Homo sapiens: one gene and its partners. The protein of the gene in region 4 interacts with the protein of the main gene of each other region in a pairwise test. Each region holds a gene or a part of one and is shown on either strand. Other genes may lie near its edges.

Region 1 (7,025 bases), on a different chromosome or scaffold from region 4:
GTGGCAAAGGACAATTTGGATTCGGCCTCCCACAGCTTCATTTGTAATGCTTTCAAGACATCTTCCATCTATTGAATTTAAAAAATAAAAAAATAAAGAAACACACATATAATTAAAAATTATACATGGTTAAATATAATTAAGATATACACTTAATGCAATTTTGGATATGTCATACATTACAAGGTAGATATTCAGTGTTTAACAAAACTATTTAGAGGCATAAATTTTTTAAAAATAAAGCATAATTCTATCAACAGTAGTTCTCAACCTATAATCTACATCTCTTTTATACAATCATCACCATCTCACCTATCTGGCAATGAGAAAATGTTAACATCCAACAACAAGGCTATTTATACCACAAGAATTGAATCAAACAAAATACTGATTTGAATCAAAGATGTATTTCTAGCTTTGCAGTGTTTTAATATATAGTTTTGATTTTGACATGACATGTCTTCCTCATTATTTTGTTGATTAAGCTTTAGCTTTTGAGTTCCCCAAAAATCAACTTTACTAACAACTGAAATGAAATAAGCACACTCTTCCTGCAATCAACACAGATGACGTTATGAGAATTATCGTTTGTGGGGGAGCACTTCTTCACTGACAAACTGTTCATACAAAGATATAAAATGTACAGAATAAAATTACCTGTGTTAGAGACTTTTCTATTTCAACTCTGCTTTCAAGATTAAAAAGCTCTTTATCTTCTGACACAATTTGCTTTTCAGAGGACCCTAAAACATAACTGAAGTACGGTACAAGGTTAAAATACAAGCTGGGTGTGGTGGCATGCACTTGTTCCCAGCTATTCAGGAGGCTGAGACAGAAGGATCATCTGAGGCTAGGAGTTTGAAACCAGCCTGGGCAACACAAGACCCCGGGCAATATGCCTGTAGTCTTAGCTACTTGGGAGGCTGAGGCAGGAGGATCGCTGGAGCCCAGGAGTTCAAGGATGCAGAAAGCTATGACCACAGCACTGCACTCCAGCCTGGGCGACAGAGTGAGACCCCATATCTTAAAAAAATAAGTTTTAAAATAAATAAAAATAAAAAGCTGGGGGCAGGGGGCAATATCCTACTGAACTACTTTCAATTTTTAAAAACAACTGAATATACTTTTATTCCAAAAATTTTCTCACAGTGTTTTCTCCTACAATTTAGAGTGTCTGACTTTTCCAATACCAAATAAAGAAGGAGGTCAAAGCAAAAAAAAAAAAAATTACTGGCTTGTTAGAAATCATTACTTGAAAATATATTTAACCAAACAGTATTGATTTAGTTCTGACAATTCCGTGCCTTAACTTTCTGAAACACCAGTTGTGAGGTAAACATTTATATATCAAACTTACCTTTCAATGGCTTCAACACTGAGGCAAAACAAGTCTCTCTTGTAATCAAGATTCTTGGGCGTGCATCTGTACACGTAGCCAAGATTGAGTGAGCACCCCGCGCAGCACAAAGTCTCAAGGACGCTGCAATAAAGAAATGTCTTGCTTTAGGAAACGAAGCAGCAACTCATTATAATAAAAATCTCACTGTTAAAATCCATAAACACCTCAGTTTCTCAAGTATGCTATTCTGACCACACTAGGTCATACATAAAGGATAGGAAAAAATGATAGTAAGATATTTACAATAAAAATGTAAAGACAGCCACGATGCCTTAAGTATCAAATGACAAGGGACATACAAAAAAGTGACAAGAGAGAATATTGAGGTGGTGTTTTTCTAGAATATAAATTCCTCCATCTGGTACTAATGTAACAAAGTGGAGAATAAATATTTTAGCCTCGCCAGCCATCTGGTGTCTGTCACTACTCACCTCTGCCATTGTAAAACGGAAGCACCTATAGACAATACTAACTGAATAACCTGTGTTCCAATAAACTCGTATTCACAAATGGGTGCCCGCCCCATGGGCCATAGTTTACCAAACTCTGCTCTAGTGGAAGGTAATACTGCTTGGCTTAATAAAAAAAAAGTCTCTAAAGTTAGATGACAACCCATGTAATTGTTTCTTCATTCTAGTTACCTCTCAACTCAGGTTCCACACACTTGAATATACCCTCCCCCAAAGCCTATTCATGTCTCCTTAAAACCTGGCTTAGAATCCAGTGTCTCCCAAACGCCTTGTTGAACTGACCCATCCAAATTTACCATTCTATAAATATACTAAAATTACCATTCCAACACATAGCAAAATGATAACTAGAGATTTAAATCTAGTAGTGATCACAGTAGTAAAACATACACCACAAACGATTTTTATTACAAAAGTATTCTAACTCCTACTCAGTATGTGAAACACTTGTAATCACTAAATATCCATTCCTGCTATCAAGCAAAAGGGAGCTACCCAAGACTCACAGATTATAGACTACATCATTGTTTACTTACAGATACTGAGACACTGTTAATTATTACAGCAACATATGGAACAAAGAACAAAATGGATCACCATCTGATTAAGTCATGAATTCTCACTGATGATGTGATTAGCTGGATAGTATGCCACTGATTACATATTAAGTGTCTACGGGCTTTTATAAGCTTCTATATTTTAGTTTTATAGTAGAAATAGTCTCGCTATGTTGCCCAGGCTGGTCTCGAACTCCTAGCCTCAAGCAATCCTCCACCTTGGCCTCCCAAATGTGAGATTACTGGCAGGAGTCACCATACCCAGCCAGCTTGTTTAAATGTTTATATGAGAAATAAAAAGCATGTCGGTAAATCCCACTTAAATTACTCACAGTGAACAGGTAAACCTCCATGCTATATATCAAACCTCATTACCATTATAAGACCGCCTCACACCATTACCAAGACTGCAAACTAATATCTAATGTCATCAGCCAAGAAAGGACACTCAGAGAAACCAGAGGCTTGAACTCCCCAAATCCACTGAGCCATGAATAAGACTGTTTTATCCCGAGTTATCAAAATCAACCTAAACACCACCAAAAATAGGAACAAACCCATTCACACTTCTAGAATCATCTTGTGGAGCAATGAAGAGATGGTAGCTAGTATTAAGGCAGCAACTTTCCGCTTTCACAGTTGGCAAGAATTTGGCCAGCATTCACCCCTTTCATTGAACAGTAACATTGAGAAGGCAGTGCCAATAATCGTAAGGTGATGTTAGACAAGGAATAATCCGATTGTTAAGATCCTCAACAAAGGACAAAGTCAGACTTAACAGAGAAAACAGCACTGGCACCTTCACAACATATTTCTAAAGCCCACAGTGCTCTTGCTGACCATCAGCAGAAAGGCTCAGGCAGGTATCAAAAAATTCACAAGCATCCCAAAGCAACACGGGAGTGTGCAGCACACAACCCTAGTGAAGTCCAAGACAACTGAAGGCAGTCTAATCGATGGGTTTAGGTGATACAAACAGTATTAATAACTCTGGATCAAAGAGAGTGAATTCTCTATCAATCCTGATTAGAAAAAAGAAGAAAGTCTCGGTTTGGTGCTAGACTGTCTTTGACACTTGTCTCATAGTCGCAAATCTTTTAATAGTAACAGAACAGACCTCAGGCAGAGAACCAGCCAGGCAACAACATCTCAGCTAGAACTAATAACATTTGTTTTCACTGTAATTATCTTCAGAGTTACTTTCTAGTTATGGCAAGTATGTATTTATGATAGTAAAAACAATCCTTTTAAGACAAATTTAAATAAAAATTTTGAGTTGATTTAATTTTAAAAATTTAGTATGTAATAGCACAGTTGGTACCTGGTACACAAATAGGACAAAAATGATGGTGATATCAAAATGGCTAGAGCTAGAGCTAGAAAGTGGAGAAGAAAGAGCACTTCGAAGGCAGTAAGGAAGGGTAACAAGCATCATCCTAGCTCTTACTGCTAATTAGTCCTGTGACCTTAGCAAAGTTCTAGCCTCCCTGGGCCTAACTTTCTTCAACTACCAAATGAGAAATGATCTGAGGTGGGTTTTCCAAATTTTTATGGCCTGCATGCCGGCACCACAATTTCTGTCACATCCACAAACCATCTGTACTATTACTAATTTATCTTAAATGGAGAAACTTTTTTTCTTTTTTTTTTTTTTTCACTTTTATGGAAGAGATACATAGGGCAAAGGTTACAGAAGGGGGACACAGAGCTTCCAAGACCTTTCTAGGTACACCACCCTCCCGGCATCTCATATTCACCAATCTGGAAGTTCTCTAAAACCCATGGGTTTTTTGGAGGTTTTATAACACAGGCATGATTAATTACACCATTGCTGATAATCTCTAGCCCCTCTGCCCTCGATGGAGGTAGGAGAAGAGGTTGGGGTAGGGCCAAAACTTCCAACCCTCTAATCATGCCTTGGTCCTTCTGGCCCCCAATCCTGAAGCTACATAGAAGCCCCCCAGCCACAGTCACCTCATTAGGATTAAAAACGACATTATTATCACTCCAGAGATTCCAAGCATCTTAGAAGCTCTTCTGTCAGAACTGGGGACTAAGACCAAACATGGTAACAAAAGATACCCTTATCACCCCATCACTCAAGAAATCGAAAGGGTTTTAGGAGCGACTAAGTATTGAATGTTTCTGTCCCCTACCACATGTATAAGTTGAAATGGTAGCTCCTAATGTGATGGTATTGGGAGGAGGGGTCATCAGGAGGTATTTGGTCATAAGTGCACAGAGTAATTTTTTTTAAATTGAAATATACTTTATTTGATAGGATACTCTAGCATCACTAAAAATGAAAAGCCAGTATTTTTAATACACATTAAAATATACACATAATTAATTTTTGTTTAACTGTGTACCACCTAAAGTTATTTCATACGCAAGTGTAAGATACAGTTTACATTTGCAGCAACAATTATATAGGGCAGCGCTTCCCACTCAGTTTGCTCAGGCGTCACTATGGCACATGGGTGGCAGGTATGGCAAGATATTTGTCCCCTCTACCCTTAAAGTGGCCACACAGGGCTTCAGATTGCTGGAGCTCCTGTGTTGTTTGCTCTTGCCACAAACAGCCTTGTCTGTTTACCCCAATAGGCTGTGTGTGTGACAGCAGCATTTTATGTGTGTGCCATAACATGAGAAAGTTGGGCAGCATTAGCCTAAGGCACCCTTTAACATTGAGATTTTATAATATAGGTATTTCCTTTTCTTCTTTTTTTTTTTTTTTTTTTTTTTTTTTGAGACGGAGTCTTTCTCTGTTGCCCAGGCTGCAGTGCACTGGCGATCTTGGCTCACTGCAACCTCCACCTCCGTAGTTCTAGTGATTCTCCTGTCTCAGCCTCTTGAGTAGGTGGGATTACAGGCCCGCACCACCATGCCCGGCTAATTTGTGTATTTTTAGTGGAGACGGGGTTTTGCCATGTTGGCCAGGCTGGTCTCGAATTCCTGACCCCCCGGTGATCTGCCCACCTTGGCCTCCGAAAGTGCTGGGATTACAGGCGTGAGCCACCGTGCCCGACCTTCTTTTTCTATTTTTATTTTTGATTTTCTTCAGCACCAAGCCCAAAGATCCAAAAAGGGAATGTCAGCATATGCTTTTAGAAATCTAGAAACTCTAACTTTTCAATATCTAAAGGTGACCACAACCACTCAAGAACTAACATATTCCTTTCTAAAACAGGATATAGAAAAAGCAAAAAAAAGAACTGATATATGCGAACGACTGATTTTTTTACTATCATGAAAAGTTTTATCCCAAGTAATCTTACTACTAGTAATGACCTTTTAAAGATTTTTATTAAAGAAAATTCTCTAACATATTCATATAAATACAGTTTTACTCACCAACCATTTTCCTTTTCACGTTTGGATAGCTTCTGTTCCTTATCCACAGAAACATTACAGGAAACACCTAGAAACAGAGAAAGTAACAATAATTTATTAATGTAGTTCGTTATAACATACCTGCAGACAGAGAGTTTCTAATCCAACTTTTTAGAACTCGGAGGACAAAAAATAAGCCCAAAGTCAAACACACAAAAGAGCGGTTTAAAACTAAATGTACTGGGGTCTTCTGGGAAAAGATAGCAGAATAAGAGTTATTTCCAACCAGGCGCAGGGACTCACACCTGTCATCCCAACCCTTTGGGAGGCCAAGGTGAGAGAATGGCTTGGGGCCAGGAGTTCGAGGTCAGCCTGGACAACATAACGAGACTCCATCTCTAAAAAAAAATTTTTAAATAAAAATTTAAGAAAAATTTTAAAAGGTTATTTCCTCCCTTTCCCTGAAAACCACTAACATTAATAGAATGGCTAAAATTAGAGGGGAAAATTCATTCCACAGTAAACTTGGAACAAGTAGAACCTCAAATCACACACTGCAAAGAATTATCTGCCAGATAGTGAAATTGGGTTCCAAACCTAGGAAGATGCAAACAGCCAACACATATATCTCCAGATTTCAAACACAGGGCCCATTTCTCTAAAAGTAACTGAGAGGGTCCTCAGGATCCCAGCCACACATCTTTTACTTGAACAATGACTTGGACAGAGGTCACTGCTGGACTTCAGAGGCAGCAGCAAACATTCCCAAAGAATCCAGCTCTAGGAAACACTAAAGGACAGGGTAGAGGGTGAAGAGAAATGAAGAAGGGACATCTGACCTAAAATGGCCAAAACAGACTCTTGATTTCACGGCCTCCTACAGTCTACCTTAACTCGGTAAACTCCAACTCCATCTACCTGCTTGCTGAAATCAGAAACCAGGGTGTCATCCTTGATTCTTTGTCTCCTCATCCTGCTCCCCTGTATCTACTCCACTGATCCATCCCATCAATTCTACCTCACAAACTTCACTCCAGCCCCCAAACCACCAGCACCACCTCTTGCCTGGACTACTGCCCTGGCTCTTCACTAACCTCCCCACTTCCATACTTGTTCCTCCTTCAATGCTTTCTCCAAAGAAAATGCGGGGTCACATTACTCCCCTGCCTAAGCTAGCATAATAACGTACTCACTAGAACAGATTACTACTCTTTAGAACAGACTACAACGCCTTGCAGTTTCTGATCTCTTCCTTCCTCCCTAAAT
Region 2 (7,152 bases), on a different chromosome or scaffold from region 4:
AGGCAGAGGTTGCAGTGAGCCGAGATCATGCCATTGCACTCCAGCCTGGGCAACAAGAGCGAAACTCCATCTCAAGAAAGAAAGAAAGAAAGAAAGAGAGAAAAGAAAGAAAGAAAGAAAGAAAGAAAGAAAGAAAGAAAGAAAGAAAGAAAGAAAGAAAGAAGGAAAGAAGGAAAGAAGGAAAGAAGGAAAGAAGGAAAGAAGGAAAGAAGGAAAGAAGGAAAGAAGGAAAGAAAGAAAGAAAGAGAGAAAGAAAGAAAGAAAGAAAGAAAGAAAGAAAGAAAGAAAGAAAGGTGATGTGGGAGTGCTTCAAGTAAAAGAAAAATTATCCCTGCCATGATATTCTCTGTGCAATGCTTCAATATGCTTATCAAACAAGAGAACTATTGCTGAAAGAATTTTAGCATCTTTTTTACTAAGGCTTCTTTTTTCAATTTATTTGTTCAAAGGTTCCTGGATCGTGGGTTCCATTTTACAGAGATATGAAAGCCAATCCGATAGTGTTGCAGGTATTTACACTGCCTTTAAATTTGTACTTTTCTCTGGGAATGACAGGGGAGAAGCAGATGGTGACACCAGTGGGGTTTCTGATTTGAAATGACACAGTCTATATGATTAACCAGCAACAAGAGGCCAATCCAACCAGAATCTAGGACTAAGACTGAGTTTTGAGTGTTGGCAACAGGAAGAGTGTGCTGAAAGCACTCTGCCCAGGCAGAGTGTAGAGAAAATGGATTCATCTAGAAAATTATAAAAGACGAAATGAATATCACAGCTCTAGGGTTCAGACACATGCTCATTTGAAACAGTCCATAATATAGACTGATTGTTTTTTGTCAACTCATTATCCAAGAGCCAAGAAGTGCTGCATGAATGACCATCTGGAGATGAAGTTAAAGTGAAAGCCAGTGCTGGGAAACTAGTCACTCAACACCCAAACTGAATCCAGCATTTGTGGAAAGACCTCAGGCTGTGGCACAGATGAGAGTCAGGCGTTCTGACTGGCCCCACTATAGCCTCCAGGAGGGCTCTGTGGATTGGGGTTGGCAGCACTTCCTTAGATGGTGACCCTGCCTTCCTTCCTTTAGCCCACTTTCTTTCGCCCTCCTCTCTTCACGGAGTGCTTTCATCCTTCAACTAAAATGTCTGAAACAACCTTATTTTCCATCCTGGCAAGCTTGCACCATCCTCATTCATAGCTCATCTGGGAGCCTTCTTTTCCTTAAAGTAGGATTAATACAAGCGATAGCTTATTCCCTTTAGACTTCCAAGATCAAAAATAAATACGTACATACATGAAAATGGCAGAAAGAAGGAACCATGGGAGGGTCGCCTTTTCTTTTTCTCTTTACCACAGAACAGAGCGCAGGACTATAGTCTGATTGTCCTACAATCTATTCCATTTATTTTCACTCCCAATAGATGGTGTAATTTGGAAAAGAAAAGACACTCACGGGGCTTAACAGAGACCCAGTAGGAAACGCATAAACGTCTCCCTGCAGCACAATGATGCACTCGCTGCATCTCGGGGCTGCGGTACAAATGCTCAGTCCCTGCTTTGCTGAGCTGACCCGAGTGGAGCGGAGCGGTGGAGATTTCACCACGCTAACCCCGCTGGGCCTCGGCACCTCCACACAAGCCCCATTCCATCTCCTTCTTCCCATCACTTGGTCCATAGATCAACTGATTCCGTGCCTCGTCCCCCATATCCGTCCCTAAAACCTACCCTGCACTGATCCACCTTCAGATTTCCCACTGCTCCTCCGCAGAACCCACCCAGTGTGCATGTTTGTGCACATTTTGACAGAAAAAGTATTTCGTTGCATATGGATCAGCAACCCCTTCGCGGTTCTGCTTGCTCCCCTCCCCCTCCTCCCGCTGCTCCATTCACCTCCATCTCAGATCCCCCTCCTCCCCCCAGTCCGGTGGGGTAAAGAAAGCCTCCTCCAGGCAGCACAATGGCTGGCACTCTGAGGAAGCCGGACTCATCCCGTGCAGGCCGCATACACACTCCACTGCCCTTCCGGCCAAACAAGCCCGGACACGGGAGAGGGATGAGAGTCGGGGATGCCTAGCGGCGAGGAGAGAAGGGATAGGCAAAAGGGAAGAAGAGCGGGCTGTGATACCTCCTCGACGCCGTCAAACACTGCTCCCCGCATTCCAGAGCCCGGGGCCCACCCGACGGCAGCGCGCCCCGCCACCGCGCAGCCGCCCCGGTCCCTTCTCCCGCCCGTCTGTAGTAAAACAATCGCTCTCCCGGCGTCTGCGGCCGCTGCCAGCGGTTCTGACACTGCAGGAATGCGCGGTCTGGGGAAGGCTCCGCACTCTGGGGAGGGGCACGAGCGGGGTCGGGGGTAAGTTTTTAGGGACAAAGATGATCTTGGGGCGTTTACGGTGACTGGACCAGATAACGGTCCCGGGACGAGGTACCGACCCACTGCCCCAGCGCGATCGGGCGGCGTTCCCTTCTTCCCCCAGCCCCCATACCTCGCCGCCCTGCCTTCACACGCGCGCACACACGCGGGCACACACACGCGGACACACACACACACACACACACACACACACACACACCAGGCCTGGCTGGAGGGCCGATGCTGAGATGATACTGGAAGTGCCCATCATCCCACATCTCCAGGGCCTGGCGCGGCGTCCCAGCTGCGCTCCCTGAAGGGCTGGGCAGGAAGGCGACGGCCTCCCGTTGTTCCTTTCTAATCCCAGAATGGGACCAGGTGAGGGGAGCTGCGGCGACCCCAGACCGTCCTGTCAGAGAATCCCGGGGCCTCCTTACCACCCCCACCAGACCCCACCCCCAGCAGTGAGTCGGGTCCTAACTAAAGTCAACCCCCGCGACGGCACCTGTGCGGGTCCTGGCGGAGGGAGGCGGATCCCGGGGCTCAGCCGGACACCCCCATCCACGGGCCGCGGGAGCGGCCGGAGCGCAGCGCAGCGCAGCGGAGAGCCAGCCAGCCAGCCAGCCAGCGAGCGCTCCCCGCGCAGCTCCGGCGGCGCCCGGCTCCGCTCCCGCCTCCACCCCACCCCTTCCCCGCGCTCGTGCCCGGGCTCCGGGGGCGCGCCCGCGCTCGGGCACCCACCCAACTGGCACGCGCGGGAGCTGGACGTCATCCCCTCGTTAACATTCATAGCCTTCCTCCGAGCACGTGGGCTTGCCTTTATTAATATTTATGCATTTCTGTTTCTCTCCTCTTTAACATTGGCCTTTCTGCTTCCCTCATGAATATTCAGAAACTCCAAGATGAAAGCGTGCAATAACTACCAATATGGATACCTCGCAAAGCCTGACACTAGTTTCTGGATAAAATGCAGGCGATGGCTGCTGGCGGATGCCGGCAGACACACTCAAAGACCCTTTTGGACTTTCCGAGTTTCCCATTCTCCTCTACTGGAGGCTGAGGCGGGCAGGCCCAGCGACGTCTCCCAGCTCCAACTGGGTTCGGACCTCAAGCCAAAAATGAGGAGGCCGGCAGGAGAGCTTTTCTCGCCCAAAGATGCTGGGTGGGAGCTGGATCCAGCTGAAAAATCTGAGTGAGAAGGTTTCAGGCCCAGGAGGACTTGAGATAATACAGGAAAATTCAAGAGGCTGAAATGAGAAGGGTCCCTGGAGTCTTGTGAAAAATTATTAATTTATCTTGTCTACTGTGCATAGGCCTGTGCTTATAGAAGTTGTCAATAAAAAATCTAATAATTCACGAATACACACAACTAAGAGCACAAGAACTGTAATTATCGAAGGAAGGCACTGGAAAAAGCATGTCGGCTTGGAGAACCCCAAGTACTTTTGTCTGATGGCAAAGTACCTCTGGGCTGAACTGAGGACTTCAACTGGAAGGGGCAGGGAGCGTCTCTTTTGCTCGTTTATGCATTCATTCCACAGACATTTCAACCATGAGAAGGATGGAAACAGGAATAATGTCCCAATGAGATGAGAAGAAGCGTTGGCCTATTTGCCTTTGTGGGAGCAATAGACAGAGGATGTCTTCCTGTAAGAAATCATAAGGCCAGGCACGGTGGCTCACACCTATAATCCCAACATGTTGGAAAGCTGAGGCAGGAGGATCACTTGAGGCCAGGAGTTCAAGACCAGCCTAGGCAACATAGTGAGACCCCATCTCTATAAAAAAAAAAAAATTAGCCAGGCATGGTGGGCCCATCCTGGTAGCCCATCCTGGTAGCCCCAGCTACACTGGAGGATGAGGTGGGAGGATCGCTTGAGCCCAAGAGGTTGAAGCTGCACTCCAGCCTGGGCGACAGCAAGACCTTGTCTCAAAAGTAAATAAATAAATAAATAAATCACAAAGAGTAGCTGGTTAAAAGATCCCTAGATCTCCTTTCTTGGGATCATGCCCAGTTTTGTGACCTTGGGTTAGTTAACTTCCCTGTGGCTCATTTCCTCATCTGTAAAATGAAGAAAATAATAGTGCCCGCCGGGCGCGGTGGCTCACGCCTGTAATCCCAGCACTTTGGGAGGCCGAGGCGGGCGGATCACGAGGTCAGGAGATCGAGACCATCCTGGCTAACACGGTGAAACCCCATCTCCACCAAAAATACAAAAAATCAGCTGTGCGTGGTGGCGGGCGCCTGTAGTCCCAATTACTCGGGAGGCTGAGAATGGCGTGCACCCAGGAGGCGGAGCTTGGAGTGAGCCGAGATTGCGCCACTGCACTCCAGCCTGGGTGACAGAGCGAGACTCCGACTCAAAAAAAAAAAAAAGAAAGAAAATAATAGTGCCCCACTCTATTGTGGCCTGTTGTGGGATTAAAGGAGTGAATATGAGTAAAGTACTTCCAGGTTTATTAGAAGGCACTATATGTATGTATGTGTGTATATATATACACACACACATATATATGTCATATATATGTCTCATATAGATGTCCCATATATACGTCTCATATAGATGTCCCATATATATGTCTCATATAGATGTCCCATATATGTCTCATATAGATGTCCCACATATATGTCTCATATAGATGTCCCACATATATGTCTCATATAGATGTCCCACATGTATGTCTCATATAGATGTCCCACATGTATGTCTCATATAGATGTCCCACATGTATGTCTCATATAGATGTCCCACATGTATGTCTCATATAGATGTCCCACATGTATGTCTCATATAGATGTCCCACATGTATGTCTCATATAGATGTCCCACATGTATGTCTCATATAGATGTCCCATATATATGTCTCATATAGATGTCCTATATATGTGTGTGTGTATATATATATGTGTGTGTGTATATATATGTGTGTGTGTGTATATATATATGTGTATATATATGTATATATATATATGTCTTGGCTAATTTGAGGCCATCTTTTGTCTAGATCTTCAGAGCATGGGACAAACAGATTTGAGAGAAGCTTGTGAAGTACTGAAAGTGATAAAGAACTTGGTCTTCAGCTGGTGACCTTGTTAGTTATCCTCTCTGTACCTCAGTTTTCTCATCTGTAAAATGGAGATGCCAATATCTGCTGTTGGATGCCAATATCTACTACAAGGTTGTTGTTATGCATATTAAGTAATATAATGCATGCAAAATGCTTAGCACAGTGCCTGGCATATAATAAGAAACCAATTAGTGGATTCTGTGGTTATTTTTGTGAGGCTATGAAGAAACTGAAAGCTGAGGACAAGTAGCCTAGGCTAGGTACCTAGGATGAGAAATCCCTGAACATGAGCCCAGTTATTCTTCCAGCAAACACTTATTTTATTGTAGTAAGATATATATAACATAAAAATTACTATTTTAACCATTTTTAAGTGTACAATTCACTGGTATTAAACACATTCACATTGCTGTGTAACCACCACCACTATTCATCTACAGAAATTTTGTTATCCAAACAGAAACTCTGTATCCATTAAACACTAACTCCCCAGTACTCCCTTCCCCAGCCCCTGGTAACCACTATTCTAATTTTGTCTCTAAGAATTTGACTATTCTAAGTACCTCATGTAAGTGTAATTATACAATATTTGTTTTTTGTATCTGACTTATTTCACTTAGCACAATGTTTTCAAGGTTAATCTATGTTGCAACAATGTCAGAATTTCTTTTCTTTTTAAGGTAAATAATATTCCATGGTATGTATATACTACATTTTGTTTATCTATTCATCTGCCCATGGACATTTGGATTGTTTCCACCTTTTGGCTATTGTGAATAATGCTACTAATCTGTCATGGGATTAGAGTGAGAAAGAAAGAATAAAAAAATAATGCTGCTGTCAACATCGGTGTACAAATTCCAGCAAGCATTGGTTGCATTCCATGACCTAGGCTAGAAGCTGGGGAGCTAAAAATGAAGGCATGCTTTCAAGAGGTTCCATGTTTAGTATGTTGATTTCCAAACTCTGCTGCTTAGAACCTGCAGTGGATTGAATGGTATTTTCCTAAAATTTGTGTCTACTCAGAACCTCAGAATGTGACTTTTACAGATGTAATCAGTTATGATGAGGTCATACTAGATTCGGGTAGGCCCTAAATCCAATGACTGGTGTCCTTATAAGAAGAGGAGAGGAGGCTGGGCATGGTGGCTCACACCTGTAATCCTAGCACTTTGGGAGGTGAGTAGATCAACTGTGGTCAGGAGTTCGAGACCAGCCTGGACAACATGGCGAAACCCCATCTCTACTAAAAATTAAAAAAAAAAAAAAATTAGCAGGGTGTGGTGTCACATACCTATAATCCCAGCTACCTGGGAGGCTGAGGAAGGAGAATCGCTAGAACCGGGGAGGCGCAGGTTGCAGTGAGCTGAGATCATGCCACTGTACTCCAGCCCAGGTGACAAAGCAAGACTATGTCAAAAACAAAAACAAAAAATACAAGAGGAGAGCATGCATAGGAAAGGAGGCAGAGATTGGAGTAATTCAGGTACAAGCCAAATGACACCAAGGATTGCCAGGAACCACCCAAAGCTAGAATGAGGCAAGAAAAGATTCTTCCCCAGGACCTTCAGTAGGTAGCATGGCCCTGCTGACAGCTTGATTTTGGACTTCCAGCCTCTAGAACCATGAAACCATAAATTTCTATTTAAAGATCATTTGTCGTGGCAGGCCTAGGAAACTAGTACAAATTTTGGTAGTAGAAAGTGGGATGCTGCTGTAACAAATATTT
Region 3 (7,025 bases), on a different chromosome or scaffold from region 4:
CATTTAACTTCTCTGAGCCTCAGCTTTTGTTTTGGTTAAATATGGATTGTATTTACGTACTGAGGTTTTACTTATAAGAGTATTCTGCAGGATTCGATGTTGGCAGGACTTTGACCTCCTTGCAAAAGAGCTGTCCTGACCGTTGTTTACGACTGGTTGTAATACTTGGTGATAAAGATGAAGGCAGTTCATATGTCTTGACTGCAGAATTCTAGAAATCTTTCACTAGAGTTGCCTCTGTGTCCTTCCAACTACCATTGTTTTGACCTTGGTGGAGACTGTTAGTTGGCTTTCATTTTCTTGGAAGATCAAACTCACTGACAGGCACTTCTAAGTGAAATATTCCATCCCATTTGCCTTTTTCTTATAGCCTTGTTTAAGAAGGAGCAAATCAGCAGACAAAGCAAACTCCTCAAATTCTGGACTGTCTTCACCTGCTAGTGTATCCTGCTTAAATTCCTGCCAGGATTAGGTCTATAGTCAGTGATACGGTTTGGCTGTGTCCCCACCCAAATCTCAACTTGAATTGTATCTCCCAGAATTCCCACGTGTTGTGGGAGGGATCCAGGGGGAGGTAATTGAATCATGGGGGCTGGTCTTTCCTATGCTATTCTCATGATAGTGAATAAGTCTTACAAGATCTGATGGGCTTATCAGGGGTTTCCGCTTTTGCTCCTTCCTCATTTTCCCTTGCTGCCGCCATGTAAGAAGTGCCTTTTGCCTCCTGCCATGATTCTGAGGCCTCCCCAGCCATGTGGAACTGTAAGTCCAATTAAACCTCGTTTTCTTCCCAGTCTCGGGTATGTCTTTATCAGCTGCATGAAAATAACCTAATATAGTAAGTTAGTACCAGTAGAGTGGGGCGTTGCTGAAAAGATACCTGAAAATGTGGAAATGACTTTGGAACTGGGGAACAGGTAGAGATTGGAATAGTTTGAAGGGCTCAGAAGACAGGAAAATGTGGGAAAGTTTGGAACTTCCTAGAGACTTGTTGAATGGCTTTCCCAAAATGCTGACAGCAATATGGACAATAAAATCCAGGCTGAGGTGGTCTCAGATGGAGATGAGGAAGTTGTTGGGAACTGGAGCAAAGATGACCCTTGTTATGTTTTGGCAAAGAGAACTGGTGGCATTTTGCCCCTGCCCTAGAGATTTGTGGAACTTTGAACTTGAGGGAGATGAGTTAGGGTATCTGGCAGAAAAAATTTCTAAGCAGTAAAGCATTCAGGAGGTAACTTGGGTGCTATTAAACGTATTCAGTTTTATAAGGGAAGCAGAGCATAAAAGTTTGGAAAATTTGCAGCCTGACTATGCGATAGAAAAAAAAAAAACCCATTTTCTGGGGAGAAATTCAAGCTAGCTGCAGAAATTTGCGTAAGTAGCAAGGACCCTAATGTTAATCCCCACGACCATGGGGAAAATGTCTCCAGGCCATGTCAGAGACCTTCATGGCAGCTCCTCCCATCACAGGCCTGGAGGCCCAAAAAGGAACAAGTGGTTTCGTGAGCTGGGCCTAGGGTCTGCCTGCTGTATGCGGCCTAGGGACTTGGTGCCCTGTGTACCAGCTGCTCCAGCTGTGGCTGAAAGGGGCGAGAGTACAGCTCAGGCTGTGGCTTCAGAGGGTGCAAGCCCCAAGCCTTGGCAGCTTCCATGTGGTGTTGAGCCCACAGGTGCACAGAAGTCAAGAATTGAGGTTTGGGAACCTCCTTCTAGATTCAGAAGATGTATGGAAATGCCTGGATGCCCAGGCAAAAGTTTGTTGCAGGGGCAGGGCCCTCATGGAGAACCTCTGCTAGGGCAGTGTGGAAGGGAAATGTGGGGTTGGAGCCCCCACACAGAGTCCCTACTGGGGCACTGCCTAGTGGGGTTGTGAGAAGAGGGCCGCTGTCCATGAGTTTATCAGGGGTTTCTGCTTTTGCATCTTCCTCCTTTTCTCTTGCTGCCACCATGTAAGAAGTGCCTTTTGTCTCCCACCATGATTCTGAGGCCTCCTCAGCCATGTGGAACTGTAAGTCCAATTAAACCTCTTTTTCGTCCCAGTCTTGGGTATGTCTTTATCAGCTGCATGAAAATGGACTATACAGTCATTCAGTGTTTGAAAATTTCTTATCCAGGAAGGTATGAGCCAGAAACCCAGCAAGTTTAGTAGTCCACAGAAACCCAGCAAATTTAGTAGTCCACAGACATTGCCTCTAATTCTACTTCACTGGCATTAGAGGAGATATTCCAACAGAGAGGAGAATAGGAATGGACTGTGCATATGGGAGCTTTGCTGGGTAGATGAGTTAGTTCTCTAGAGATTTTTGGGTTCACATTTTTATTAAGGCTAATTTTATTTTTTATTTTATTTATATATTTTTAGAGACAGGGTCTTGCTCTGTCTCCCAGGCTGGAGTACAGTGGTGCCATCATAGCTCACTACAGCCTTGAGCTCCTGGGCTTAAGCAGTCCTCCTGCCTTACCCTCCAAAAGTAGCTGGGACTGCGGCACATGCCACAGGCCTGGCCAATTTTTTTTTTTTTTTTTTTTTTGTAGAGATGTGGGGCTCCCTTTTGTTGCCCAGGCTGGTCTTGAACTCCTGGCTTCAAGCAATCCTCCCACTTTGGCTTCCCAAAATGCTGGGATTACAGGCATGAGCCACCAGGCCCATCCCTAACGTGCATTTTAAAGCCAAACATCATTTGGGATGTTATGCTTTTAGCCGTTGCAGTCCTATTGCTTCTTTTTAGCGCCCAATCCCTATTTGTTAACTATGTTATGTCTGTATTTTAAAATTTTCATTCTTGGGCTTAATACCTAGGTGATGGGTTGATAGGTGCAGCAAATCACCATGGCACATGTTTGCCTGTGTAACAAACCTGCACATCCTGCCCATGTACCCCGGAACTTAAAAAAAAAATTCATTCTTATGTTTATGCCCCAGCCAGGATTGTTTTTGTATCCTAGTGTCTTACACACTTGGAAAGAAAGCCTATTGCTTATTCACAATTAGATACCTAATAAACATTTTAGGGTGTTTTTTTCTACATGACATCTTTGTGTATACCTCTAGCTAGTAAGTAGCTTGTATGTTTAGTGTTTGATTTTACGTATCCCAATTAGATTTCAAGTCACTTGTATCTCTGAACTTTAGTTTTTCATAAAACATCATGTTTTATTGTGCTGATTATTACTTTGGTATTGAAACCTGAATTTTGGTTGTGAAATTTGAGTTTGGTGTTCTTATCTGGTGTGGTTTGGGACTCTCTTCAATACACCTCATTTGAATTAATGCTTAGAGTAATGGAGCTGGAAGGAGTATCTGCTTCTTGTCCAGGTCTCTCATTTATAGAAGGGCAGAGGATACCTAGGGAGGTTAAGGGGCCTGGCCAATGACTCGTTATTTGAAGAAGGATGGAGATGAGAGTTTGTTTCCCTAGTCTCAGTCAAATGCCCTTACCATTTGACCCTCTTGCCTCCCTGTAATGCTGTTGGGTAATAAGGTCAGGTAACTGCATTGGATAGAGCCTGGGTGTGTTTTATTGTGAACTCCCTCTCTTTCTCCTTTTTGTTGTATCTGCCTTAGTGCTTAGCTTCTTTATTACAAATTAGATATTAAATCCTGTTCTCACATTGAGAGCGAATTCTTTCTCCAGAAAGGATAACAAACCTTTTGTTTGAGAGAGATTTTTCACTTTTTGAAATGGTCTGTTTGTTTGAAGTTACAGAAGAAAAATAAGTGTAATGCACAGTTGTATTTATTATTCATGTGACCCTGGAAACATTTCTTCCCCGCCCTGTGTTTCAGTTTCTTCATCTGTAAAATGAGGTTAATAATGGTTCCCCCTTCTAATGTTGTTTTTGAAGATTACATGAGTTAATACATGTAAATTGCTTAGAACAGTGCCTAGCACCTAATATAATGGAAGTGTTGCCTACTGCCTATTGGCAGTTTTCTGTACGGCTTCACCTTCCCTTAGGACTTCTTGTCAGCCCAGTTATGTGATTTTTCACCTCGTTTTTGTTTAGGAGACTCTACTTTGTTGATGTTTTTCTGAGAAACAATGTGCTGTCTGTTTTTCTCTGTTTCCTTTGACATTTGCTGTTCATCTTTCACTGAATATTTGTTTAAGAAAGACATACAGAATGTTAATTTTCATTGATTGTAGCTTTCTTCTTTTTAAGGATTTGGAATGCCCTGACAGATAATTATGGGAATGTGATGCCTGTAGACTGGAAGTCATCGCATACTAGGACCTTGCACTTGCTTACTCTGAACCTCTCAGAAAAAGGGGTAAGTTAGGAATTGAACCAATAGTGTTTGAATAACTGATGCTGATAATAGAACTAAAACAGTAGCATTTCTGCTTAACACAGATTCACTGACCTGCCTCTCATTTCTGAAATTATAGCAGTTTGGGTGGCTCTGTCTTGATGTCTTGGCTGTAGGGCCATCACCTTGCTGGCACATTCCTCCAGTTCTTCTCCAGCACACTCATTTTTTATGTGTAGCTAAATTTCCATCACAATTTTTTTTTTTTTGACGGAGTCTCACTCTGTTGCCCAGGCTGGAGTACAGTGGCTTACTACAACCTCTGCCTCCTGGGTTCAAGCGATTCTCCCACCTCAAACTCCCGAGTAGCTGGGATTACAGGCATGAGCCACCAGTCCCGGCTAATTTTTGTATTTTCAGTAGAGACAGGGTTTCGCTGTGTTGGCCAGGCTGGTCTCGAACTCCTGACCTCAGGTAATTCACCTCCCAGAGTGCTGGGATTACAGGTGTGAGCCACTGCACCTGGCAGTGATGATGCACTGAAACACTCAGTAAAATTTGGTGCACTGAAACCCTCAGTAAAAATGCTAGCCTTTGGTTTAATATACTGAGAGTATTGGAATCTCAACACGGAGTTAACTTTTTAATGAGTGTAGTGACCTGCTAGACATGATATGTTGTCAGGAGACTGTGTATTCCTGTGAATACTGGAGAACCTTTAAAAGATATTTTAGTTCTTGGCTTTTAAAATACGGTCTTGGCTAACTTACCTTTCTTGGGGTCTCCTGTGTACATCCTGGTATTGTAAAGTGAAGATGTCTTGACTAAGAAGTGTGAGCACGAGTGGTGGGACAGGTAGGGAGGCAGAAAAGGGTTGAGAATTACTTGAAATGGAAAATCACAGTGTTAAGCTTTTTTAAATCTGATGAGAAACATATCCAAATTATCTAAGTTTCAGGGCCTGGCTGTTTAAGTTCCTTATCAAATAATAATGTAAACTCATGCCAGATCTTCTTGCGTGCTCTATATTTCATTAAGTGTAATTATGTGATTATTGAGAATATAGTGCAGTAGGCCTGTCACTATTTTACATAGTATTGTTAATGTTTTGTTAAAAGGATTTTCTTACATATGTGATCAGAAAAGCCTACTGTTATTATTTTCTAGTAAAATGTAGAATTCTGGCTGTATTTCCCAGTATTCAGTAGCTATGGAAATCTTCCTGACTGTGCCAGTCATTAATCCCATTAAGCTTTGCAGACTGACCTGGCATATATTTAATGAAAAGGAATAAAATGAGGGATCTTTTGCTCTGTCTTGTTTACTTAGGTCCTGGCTATCATTTTGGGCTTAGTTCAAGTTTCCCTTCCTCTCTGAAGCTTCCTATTACTGTTTTAGCCTTTGCTGATCTCATGGAATTATACAATTTTAGAGTTGGAAGGGGCTTTAAAGGACACTTAATCCAGCCTCTCACTTGGGGGGAATCCTCACCTCCAGCATCTCTGACAGATGGTCATTTAGCCATGGCCTAAATTCCTGCACGGAAGGAAAACACACTCCCCTCTAGGGGAACTGATGGCACTTGTGGGGTTGTGAACTTTGAAAGGACTTGTTATCTGTGCCACGGGGTTTAGCCTTGCTGTCTCATGGGTGCTAGTCCCCAGATCACTTTGTCCCTGTCTCTAAAATTACCACTGCCTTCTCTTGTTAATCATATGTTTCTGGGTCTGTCACTAGATTGTGACTTCCCGGCAGGTATTTGTATTTGTCTTTATAGTAACTATACTGTTCCTGGCACATAGTAAGTTTGAAGATACCTTTTTATTGAGTGAATAAGTGAATAGCCTTGTCAGTGAAACTGTAGGGCCAGAGATCGTGATAGAAAGGTTTTAAAAAAATATTTTCTATGTTATTTAAAATAATGCAGAATGCACCAAAACCAGTCCATGGGTACTACTTTTTTGACATATTAAAAAATAGCATAGAAGAGTTTCCATTCATAGTTTCAAAGTCAGGCCCATTAGCAGCGTGAGTGAGACAGTTTAATCCAATTTCATTGACTAAATGTACAGCGGGCCCACCATATTCTCTGGTTTCACATCTGCTGCTTTAGCCAACTGTGGATTAAAAAACTTGAAAAAAAAACCCCACAATAAAATAACAACACAACAATTGAAAATAATGAAAATAAAAAACCGAAAACCGATACAATATAACTTTATAATATAAATATTGTATAGTTATATACAATATAACTATAAACCATTTACCTTGTATTAGGTATTATAAGTAATTTACATATAATTTAAAGCTTATAGGGGGATGTGCACAGGTTATATGCAAATACTACCCCACTTTATATAAGGGACTTGAGCATCTGCAGATTTTGCTATTGGGGTGTCCTGGAACAAATTTCCCTTGGATACCGAGGGACTGCTGTATGTCTTGTATTGTTCTTAGATTGCATCTTGGGAGGTTGCTCCCTTTTGCTGCCTTTTGAATGTTATTTTCAATGCCACGGTAATGATATGGCCAAGGCAGTGATTAGTAATGACGTAGAGTTTAATGCTAGTACTGACATTAAAAAGCCTTACCTGGCTGGGCGCGGTGGCTCATGCCTGTAATCCCAGCACTTTGGGAGGCTGAGGTGGATGGATCACCTAAGGTCAGGAGTTTGAGACCAGCCTTACCAACACGGTGAAACCCCGTCTCTACTAAAAATACAAAATTAGCCAGGCGTGGTGGCGCATGCCTGTAATCCCAGATACTTGGG
Region 4 (7,196 bases):
AATTTGAGAGGCTGAGGCAGGAGGATCACTTCAGGCTAGAAGTTCAAGACCAGCCTGGGTGACACAGCAAGACAAAAAATTTAAAAATTAGCTGGGCATCGTGGCGTGCGCCTGTGGTCCCAGCTACTCAGGAGGCTGAGGTGGGAGGATCTCTTGAGCACAGGAGGTGGGAGCTGCAGTGAGCCGTGATCATGCCACTGCACTGTAGCCTGGGCGTTCTTTCTAGAATGTTGTTTGAGGTGTGCCCACGTGGTATACGTGACACTCCTCACTGCCCTGCTGGGATCACTGCCCTGTGCAAACCCCAGGCAGACTGCGGGGTCCTTGCCAGAAGCCCAGTTAGTGTGAGTCCTGTCAGTTTCCCGGTTGCTTGCTTCTGCGTCCACTTGGCTTGAGCTAGATGGCCAACTTGTCATCTCCACATTTGTTGGAGTCATGGCGGGCAGCTGTCCAACTTGGAAGAGGCATGTCACCCACGCTTCTCACCACAGGAGGGTAACACAGGGGACCGTAGCAAGGTAGAAGATTCTTGACCTGGACTTCAGGGTCCTGACCTGGCAGGGGGTCTCCCCTGATGCTTGGGTGTGACATGACTTCCCTCCCCACCAACCTTCCTGCAGTGACAGCTCCCAGCGGCATCCTCGATGTCACCGTGGTCTACCTGAACCCAGAACAGCATTGCTGCCAGGAATCCAGTGATGAGGAGGCTTGTCCAGAGGACAAGGGACCCCAGGACCCACAGGCACTGGCGCTGGACACCCAGATCCCTGCAACCCCTGGACCCAAACCCCTGGTCCGCACCAGCCGGGAGCCAGGGAAGGACGTCACGACCTCAGGGTACTCCTCCGTCAGCACCGCAAGTCCCACAAGCTCCGTGGACGGTGGCTTGGGGGCCCTGCCCCAACCTACCTCAGTGCTGTCCCTGGACAGTGACTCGCACACACAGCCCTGCCACCATCAGGCCAGGAAGTCATGTTTACAGTGTCGTCCCCCAAGTCCCCCGGAGAGCAGTGTTCCCCAGCAACAGGTGAAGCGGATAAACCTATGCATACACAGTGAGGAGGAGGACATGAACCTGGGCCTTGTGAGGCTGTAAGTGTGTCAGCACATTTGCCGCAGTGGATGTGTACTGAGGGGGCTGGAGGCGAAGGGTGGGAGCATAGCATAGGAACGCTGCATAGACCATGGAGGCCTTTGCGCAGAGAGCAGAGAGGATGACTTGCGGCCACCAAGTTTCTGTCTCCGCGGGAGTCCCGTGCAAGCCATCAGAATGTTGAAATGAGGGTGAAGAGCTCAGATCCCTCTCTTTGGAAAGTTTAGCCTGGAAGCAGTTGGCCACACTGTGTGGAGGGCACCTCTCTGTCCCTTCCGTGTCTCACTGTCTCTGGAAGCTTCAGCCCATGTGTGTCCTGGTGTTCCCAGCCCCACCAGAGCCCCGTGCCGGGAGCTGACAGCTTTCACGCTTAAGGCACGTGTGACCTGGGTAGTCAGACACCACTTGAGCCCCTGCCCACATCTGCTGGTTTGGGGCTTCAGTGGGGAGCTGACAGCTGTGAGCACACCACTGTCCCCTCATCCACCTCGGCCTGCATGGGGCACCCACTTCCTTCTGGGTGGGGCTTCCATGGTAAGGGGGCCTGCGTCCCTGCACACTGCGAGGACTGCCTTGGCCACAGGCCCACTCCCTACGACACGTGACTCGTTTTAGAGCTCTGTCCCAGAGGCGTTCGTATGTGACCCACAGATGGCGTCAATGTGAACACCTCTCTTTGTGCTGAATTTCTGGGCCATTCTTTTCCTGTCTTATTTCTAAATTTCCTTCTTCCAAGATGAAAACAAAAGAAAAACTTAAAACAGAAGGTATTAAAAAAACAAGAGATTCCCACCATTATTTAGGTTCACCTGCAAAACAAAAATCTTACTCCAGCCCCTCAATGCCATCCTGACACACTTTATGCAAAAAGAATTTTCCCAGATAGGCTAGCCAGAAAAAACTTCAAGTCCTCTGTAACATCTGAGGTGACCAAGAGGCAGAAGAGCAGAGCAGTCGGGGGCCGTGTCCTGGCTGATCCCAACTGCAGCTCTGCTGTGGGGGCCCGTGGGAGGGAGGCAGACCCCTGGGCTTTCCTGCTGGCCACGGAGACTCTGCTCCTGCATGGAAAGGGAGCCTGGGAGCCAGCAGCCCACGCCTGGGGAGCCTGCCTGGGGCCATGTGACCATGGCCTCTCCCTGGGAACGGGCTGACCACAACACACCCTGCTGCCATCCACTTCTGTTTACTCTGCAAATGTAAGAAAGAACCACTTGGCCAGAAGTGTCCCCCAGATGCTTTTTTTTTTTTTTTTTTGGAGACAGTTTTGCTCTTGTCTCCCCGGCTGGAGTGCAGTGGCATGATCTCAACTCTCAACTCACTGTAACCTCCGCCTCCCGGATACTCCTGCCTCAGCCTCCTGGGTAGCTGGGATTACAAGCACCCAACCACGCCCAGCTAATTTTTGTATTTTCGGTAGAGACGGGATTTCACCATGTTGGCCAGGCTAGTCTCGAACTCATGACCTCAAGTGATCCGCCCACTTCGGTCTCCCAAAGTGCTGGGATTACAGGCATGAGCCACGGCGCCTGGCCCCCAAATGCTCTTGAACCGGAAACCCAGGGATGGGAGATGCTCACTGAGCTGCTGCTTTTATGTGTGCTGGTGCTATGTGTGTTCATGTCCGCGGCAGCTGTCTTTTTGCTACTATAAGGGAATTCTGGCCACCCTGGGTGGGGTGTGGTCGGGGTGAGAACCCAAGCGTTGGAACTGTAGACCCGTCCTGTCGACTGTGTGCCCCTGGGCATGTGTGAGCCTCAGTTTCCTCATCTGTAAGGGGGGCAATGATACCTACCTCACAGGGGTGTTGTGAGGATTAAATGTGAGGAGGATAGTGGCAGATGAGTGATGGACGTCCTTCACTGCCTCGGCCCCTTGTCCAGGGGCTCTTAATCCCAACTCTGCATGGAGTCAGTTCTCTGCTTTCTCCCAGCTTGCACCTGAAGGAGGAAACCACTCCAGGGGGACCTGGCCCCGCCTGCCTGTGGTGGGTGGGTTCCTGCATCACCCACCTGCTGACTGAGCATTTCCCTGCCTCCTCCTTCACAGAGAATCTCCAGGGAGGCAGGGCCACCGTCACCCTCCCCCACCGCTGATGGAGGGGCCCACCCGGAGCGCTGGGCCAGAGCTGCCTGGGTCCCAACCTCCCTGACAACTCCCTTTGTGCCCTCCTTCCCCTCTGCGATGGCACCTTCCCATTAACGACTATGGAATGGACTCACCTGTCCCATCTTTAAACAGCAACCCCAGGCTCTGTTTTTCTTTCAGCTACCGCCTGGGATTTCTTGCCCCCTAATTGTTTATTCTTGTTAACACCAACTACATGGGGCCCTGCTGCCTTCCTCACTTCCTCCCTCAGGTGTCCCCCGCATCACCGAAGGCCCTGTACCCCCGCCCCCCTGCTGTGCTGTGTACACCGCCGAGGCCTCAGCAGCACTTGGCCTGTGACCCACTCCCTCCCGTGACAGCCTCCTGTTGCCTCTGTGACACTGTCCTACTGCTCCTCCACCTCCCTGGCCATTGCGTGGGCCCCGTGATCTGTCCCTACCCGTCCCCTGCCCCACCAGGGGCCACCTCGCCTGGCCCACTGCTCCAAGGTCTGAGCTTCCTCCCCTCTGCCCAGTGCTATCACGTCACATGTCCAAAAGTGAACACTTTCTCCTCCTTCATCCCCGCCCCTGACACGCGGAATCCTCACCTCCAGCAACCCCGTCCTGTCCCTGTGCTCGGTGGCCCAGGCGTCAGCAAGACGGCTGGTCCCTGCGTTAAGAGCACTTTCAATAAGGACAGATGGAGCCTCTCGTATAACCTTCACCGGCCCCCTGCAAGAGAAGCGCGATAATGGCGCCCCCATCTACCCAGTTACCCAAACCAAAATCCCGGCGTCGCCCGCAGTCACCTCCCTGGCGGCCTCGGGGGCCCAGCTCCGAGCCGGAGTCCCCGTCAGACCTGGGAGGCAGGAGTGGGCGGGGCTTGAGGCTTGCCCGCAAGGAGGGAGAGAAAGCTTCGGGGGCGGCCCCTGAGCCCCGGTTCAGGATTGGGCAGCCCGGCCGGGAAGGGGCGGCCTTCCCTCCCGGAAGGGGCGTGGCTCTTCAGAGGCGGCAAATTGCAAGGAGACGCCGCCGCCTTCATGCTGCCGGCGGGCTGCTCGCGCCGGTGAGGCCTGCGCGGCAGGAGGGGGTGGGAGGATGCGGGCGGGCCGGTAGCCAGGCGCGGGGCCCGAGGCCCGACGCTGGCCGAGGTGCTGAGCCGCCGGTGCGTCCCCCAGGCTGGTGGCCGAGCTGCAGGGCGCCCTGGACGCCTGCGCACAGCGACAATTGCAATTGGAGCAGAGCCTGCGCGTTTGCCGTCGGCTGCTGCATGCCTGGTACGCGGACCCCGGACCCACTGGCCAGACCTCCCTCGGGCCCTCAGAGTCCCGCCCCGAGCGCCCAGGGCTGGGAGACCGGGCGCAGCCGCCCACTTCGGAGCTGTGGGTTGTCAGTGCCACCCTCCTTACCCTGCAGGCTCTGAGCTGGGGGCCTGCCGCGGGGCCCGGCGGCCCCCTCGGGTCTGTTTGGGCTGGGCCCTGCCTCCTGGCCGTGCGACGGCTGCCCGTGTCTTTGCAGGGAACCAACTGGGACCCGGGCTTTGAAGCCACCTCCAGGGCCAGAAACTAATGGAGAGGACCCCCTTCCAGGTAAACCTCCACCACCCGCCTTCTCCAGGTGCTGCTCTGGCCTGTCTGCTGGCGTGCAGTTGTGAGGAACCCTCCTGGGGGACAGTGGGGAGAGATCCCTGCATAATTCTTGGCTTTCACAGCATGCACACCCAGTCCACAAGACCTCAAAGAGTTGGAGTTTCTGACCCAGGCACTGGAGAAGGCTGTACGAGTTCGAAGAGGCATCACTAAGGCCGGAGAGAGAGACAAGGCCCCCAGCCTGAAATCTAGGTCCATTGTCACCTCTTCTGGCACGACAGCCTCCGCCCCACCGCATTCCCCAGGCCAAGCTGGTGGCCATGCTTCAGACACGAGACCCACCAAGGGCCTCCGCCAGACCACGGTGCCTGCCAAGGGCCACCCTGAGCGCCGGCTGCTGTCAGTGGGGGATGGGACCCGTGTTGGGATGGGAGCCCGAACCCCCAGGCCTGGGGCGGGCCTCAGGGACCAGCAAATGGCCCCATCCGCTGCTCCTCAGGCCCCAGAAGCCTTCACACTCAAGGAGAAGGGGTAGGTTTCCCGGACCCTCACTGGAGGGACTTCTGTCTCTGCCTCCTCAGACCCTGGCTAGCAAGGAGCCTGGGATTTGGGGTGACAGGGAAGGCAGGGCATCGAGCCCTGTGGCATACCCCTGAGGCTCATGCTCAGAAGCTGGCAGAATGAAGCAGCTGTGTGGTGGTGTCCAGGTTGGCACCATCAGGTCAGGGAAGTACTGGAGCCTGTCCTCCTCTCTTCTCTGTGGCTGTCCCCTTATTTGCCCAGGCCAGAGGCTCCAGATGGGCTCTGGAGGGCGTGGGATCTGCTCACAGGGCCCCGCTCACAGGGCCCCCTCTTCTCTCTAATGGGGCAGCACTGGACGATGCTTCTCCTATGGCCACTCTGGAAGCCCTATCCAAGGGGGCTCATCCTTGGTGGGGTCGGGTGTGGGAGAGGGGCAAGAAGCCTCATCCCTGATTGGGCTCTGAGCAGGAAGTGGGACTTGTAGACCCCAGAGCAAGGCGATGCTCCTCTGAACACGGGCTTCTCCGACAGGCACCTGCTGCGGCTGCCTGCGGCATTCAGGAAAGCAGCTTCCCAGAACTCGAGGTGAGGCTGAGGTCTTTGGCTGGACGGGGGTAGGGGAGAACCGGGAGGCATCACCAGCTCGGGGACAGGTTCGAGATACTTTCCAGTGGGTCTCTTTGTCCTCTTTGCTGAGTGGGATCACTGTCGATGTTAAAAATCTGCCAGCCGGTCAGCTTTGTCCCCTTGTCCTAGTCAGTGTCCTCTTGGTTCCCTGCGGCCTCTGGAGGCCCCTCCTGGCATTCAGCAGAGCCAGACGCCCAGCCTGGGGTCCCCACCCTGGCCCTTGCCTACCTCCCAAGGCCCAGCTTACTGGCTGGAATAACCGTGTCCCTCTGTGGTTCCTCTGTGCACCCCACGTGTGCACCCCAGCCTGTGGGCCCAGCTCAGTTCCACACAGACCAGTGATTCCACGGATGCCGCCGCTGCCAAAACCCAGTTCCTCCAGAACATGCAGACAGCTGTATCCTTGCTGGGCTTGTGGGAGCCCTGGGGGCCTCTAGCTCTGAACCTGGCAGGTTTGCAGAGCAGCCCCAGGAGGGGCTGGCGTGGGATGGCCAGGGCCACTCCCCAGGCCCCGTTCTTGGTGGGAGCAGAGGGGCTTTGGCTGCAGGGAAGTTTTCCTGACCCATATCCAGTCAGGCGGGCCCCAGCCCAGGCTCAGTGCTGTGGAGGTGGAGGCGGAGGCGGGGCGCCTGCGGAAGGCCTGCTCGCTGCTGAGACTGCGCATGAGGGAGGAGCTCTCGGCAGGTCAGTGGGTCCTGGGTCTGTATCAGGAGGAGTGTGGAGGGCCAGTGCAGGGAGGGTTTCCAGACTGCCACGGGCCCCACCTGCTCTCCCTGACTCTTCTGCAGCCCCCATGGACTGGATGCAGGAGTACCGCTGCCTGCTCACGCTGGAGGGGCTGCAGGCCATGGTGGGCCAGTGTCTGCACAGGCTGCAGGAGCTGCGTGCAGGTGAGACCCCGCCCCCACCCTGCCACCTGCACTGAGGTCTGGGCCGGGGACAGGGTGCTTTAGCCAGGCTTGTCTGCGCCTCAGGGAAGGGTGAGCAGCCCAGGGACCAGATGCAAGTTGGTGGGCCCCTCCACCCCTCCCACGCCACTCCCCAGTGTGCTGGGTCCTCACCAGTCGTCCTATGGGAGCAGTCAGCCTTCCTCTCCTCCTCAGGGCAGCTCTCCCACCTCGCTGCTCCCCGCACACAGAACCTCATTGCTCTGAGCAGTTGCTTATTCACCCAGTTGTTGAAAAACTAGCATGTGAGGGCCGGGCGCGGTGGCTCACGCCTGTAATCCCAGCGCTTTGGGAGGCCAAGGCGGGTGGATCATGAGGTCAGGAGATCAAG

The links.
Region 1: the proteins of TEDC2 (region 4) and MIS18A interact in binary tests that used the Homo sapiens proteins (3 or more experiments, as listed by UniProt).
Region 2: the proteins of TEDC2 (region 4) and FEZ1 interact in a two-hybrid assay, tested with the Homo sapiens proteins (one study listed by BioGRID).
Region 3: the proteins of TEDC2 (region 4) and FEZ2 interact in a two-hybrid assay, tested with the Homo sapiens proteins (one study listed by BioGRID).

What each region holds. Positions count from the first base shown.
Region 1 is NC_000021.9:32,269,050-32,276,074, forward strand, and holds part of MIS18A (protein Mis18-alpha), read right to left. Parts: intron 5,848-7,025; coding exon 5,781-5,847; intron 1,481-5,780; coding exon 1,358-1,480; intron 755-1,357; coding exon 658-754; intron 69-657; coding exon 1-68. UniProt on the Homo sapiens protein: Required for recruitment of CENPA to centromeres and normal chromosome segregation during mitosis.
Region 2 is NC_000011.10:125,493,262-125,500,413, forward strand, and holds the start of FEZ1 (fasciculation and elongation protein zeta-1), read right to left. Parts: upstream 3,005-7,152; 5' UTR 2,860-3,004; exon of another isoform or gene 2,575-2,859; intron 2,355-2,574; exon of another isoform or gene 1,953-2,354; intron 1-1,952. UniProt on the Homo sapiens protein: May be involved in axonal outgrowth as component of the network of molecules that regulate cellular morphology and axon guidance machinery.
Region 3 is NC_000002.12:36,588,151-36,595,175, reverse strand, and holds part of FEZ2 (fasciculation and elongation protein zeta-2), read left to right. Parts: intron 1-4,164; coding exon 4,165-4,273; intron 4,274-7,025. UniProt on the Homo sapiens protein: Involved in axonal outgrowth and fasciculation.
Region 4 is NC_000016.10:2,455,925-2,463,120, forward strand, and holds the start of TEDC2 (tubulin epsilon and delta complex protein 2), read left to right. Parts: upstream 1-4,184; 5' UTR 4,185-4,220; coding exon 4,221-4,246; intron 4,247-4,358; coding exon 4,359-4,457; intron 4,458-4,698; coding exon 4,699-4,769; intron 4,770-4,891; coding exon 4,892-5,300; intron 5,301-5,822; coding exon 5,823-5,876; intron 5,877-6,224; coding exon 6,225-6,315; intron 6,316-6,490; coding exon 6,491-6,602; intron 6,603-6,706; coding exon 6,707-6,808; intron 6,809-7,196. Other genes in the region: CCNF (cyclin-F), read left to right, coding at 621-1,096. UniProt on the Homo sapiens protein: Acts as a positive regulator of ciliary hedgehog signaling. Required for centriole stability.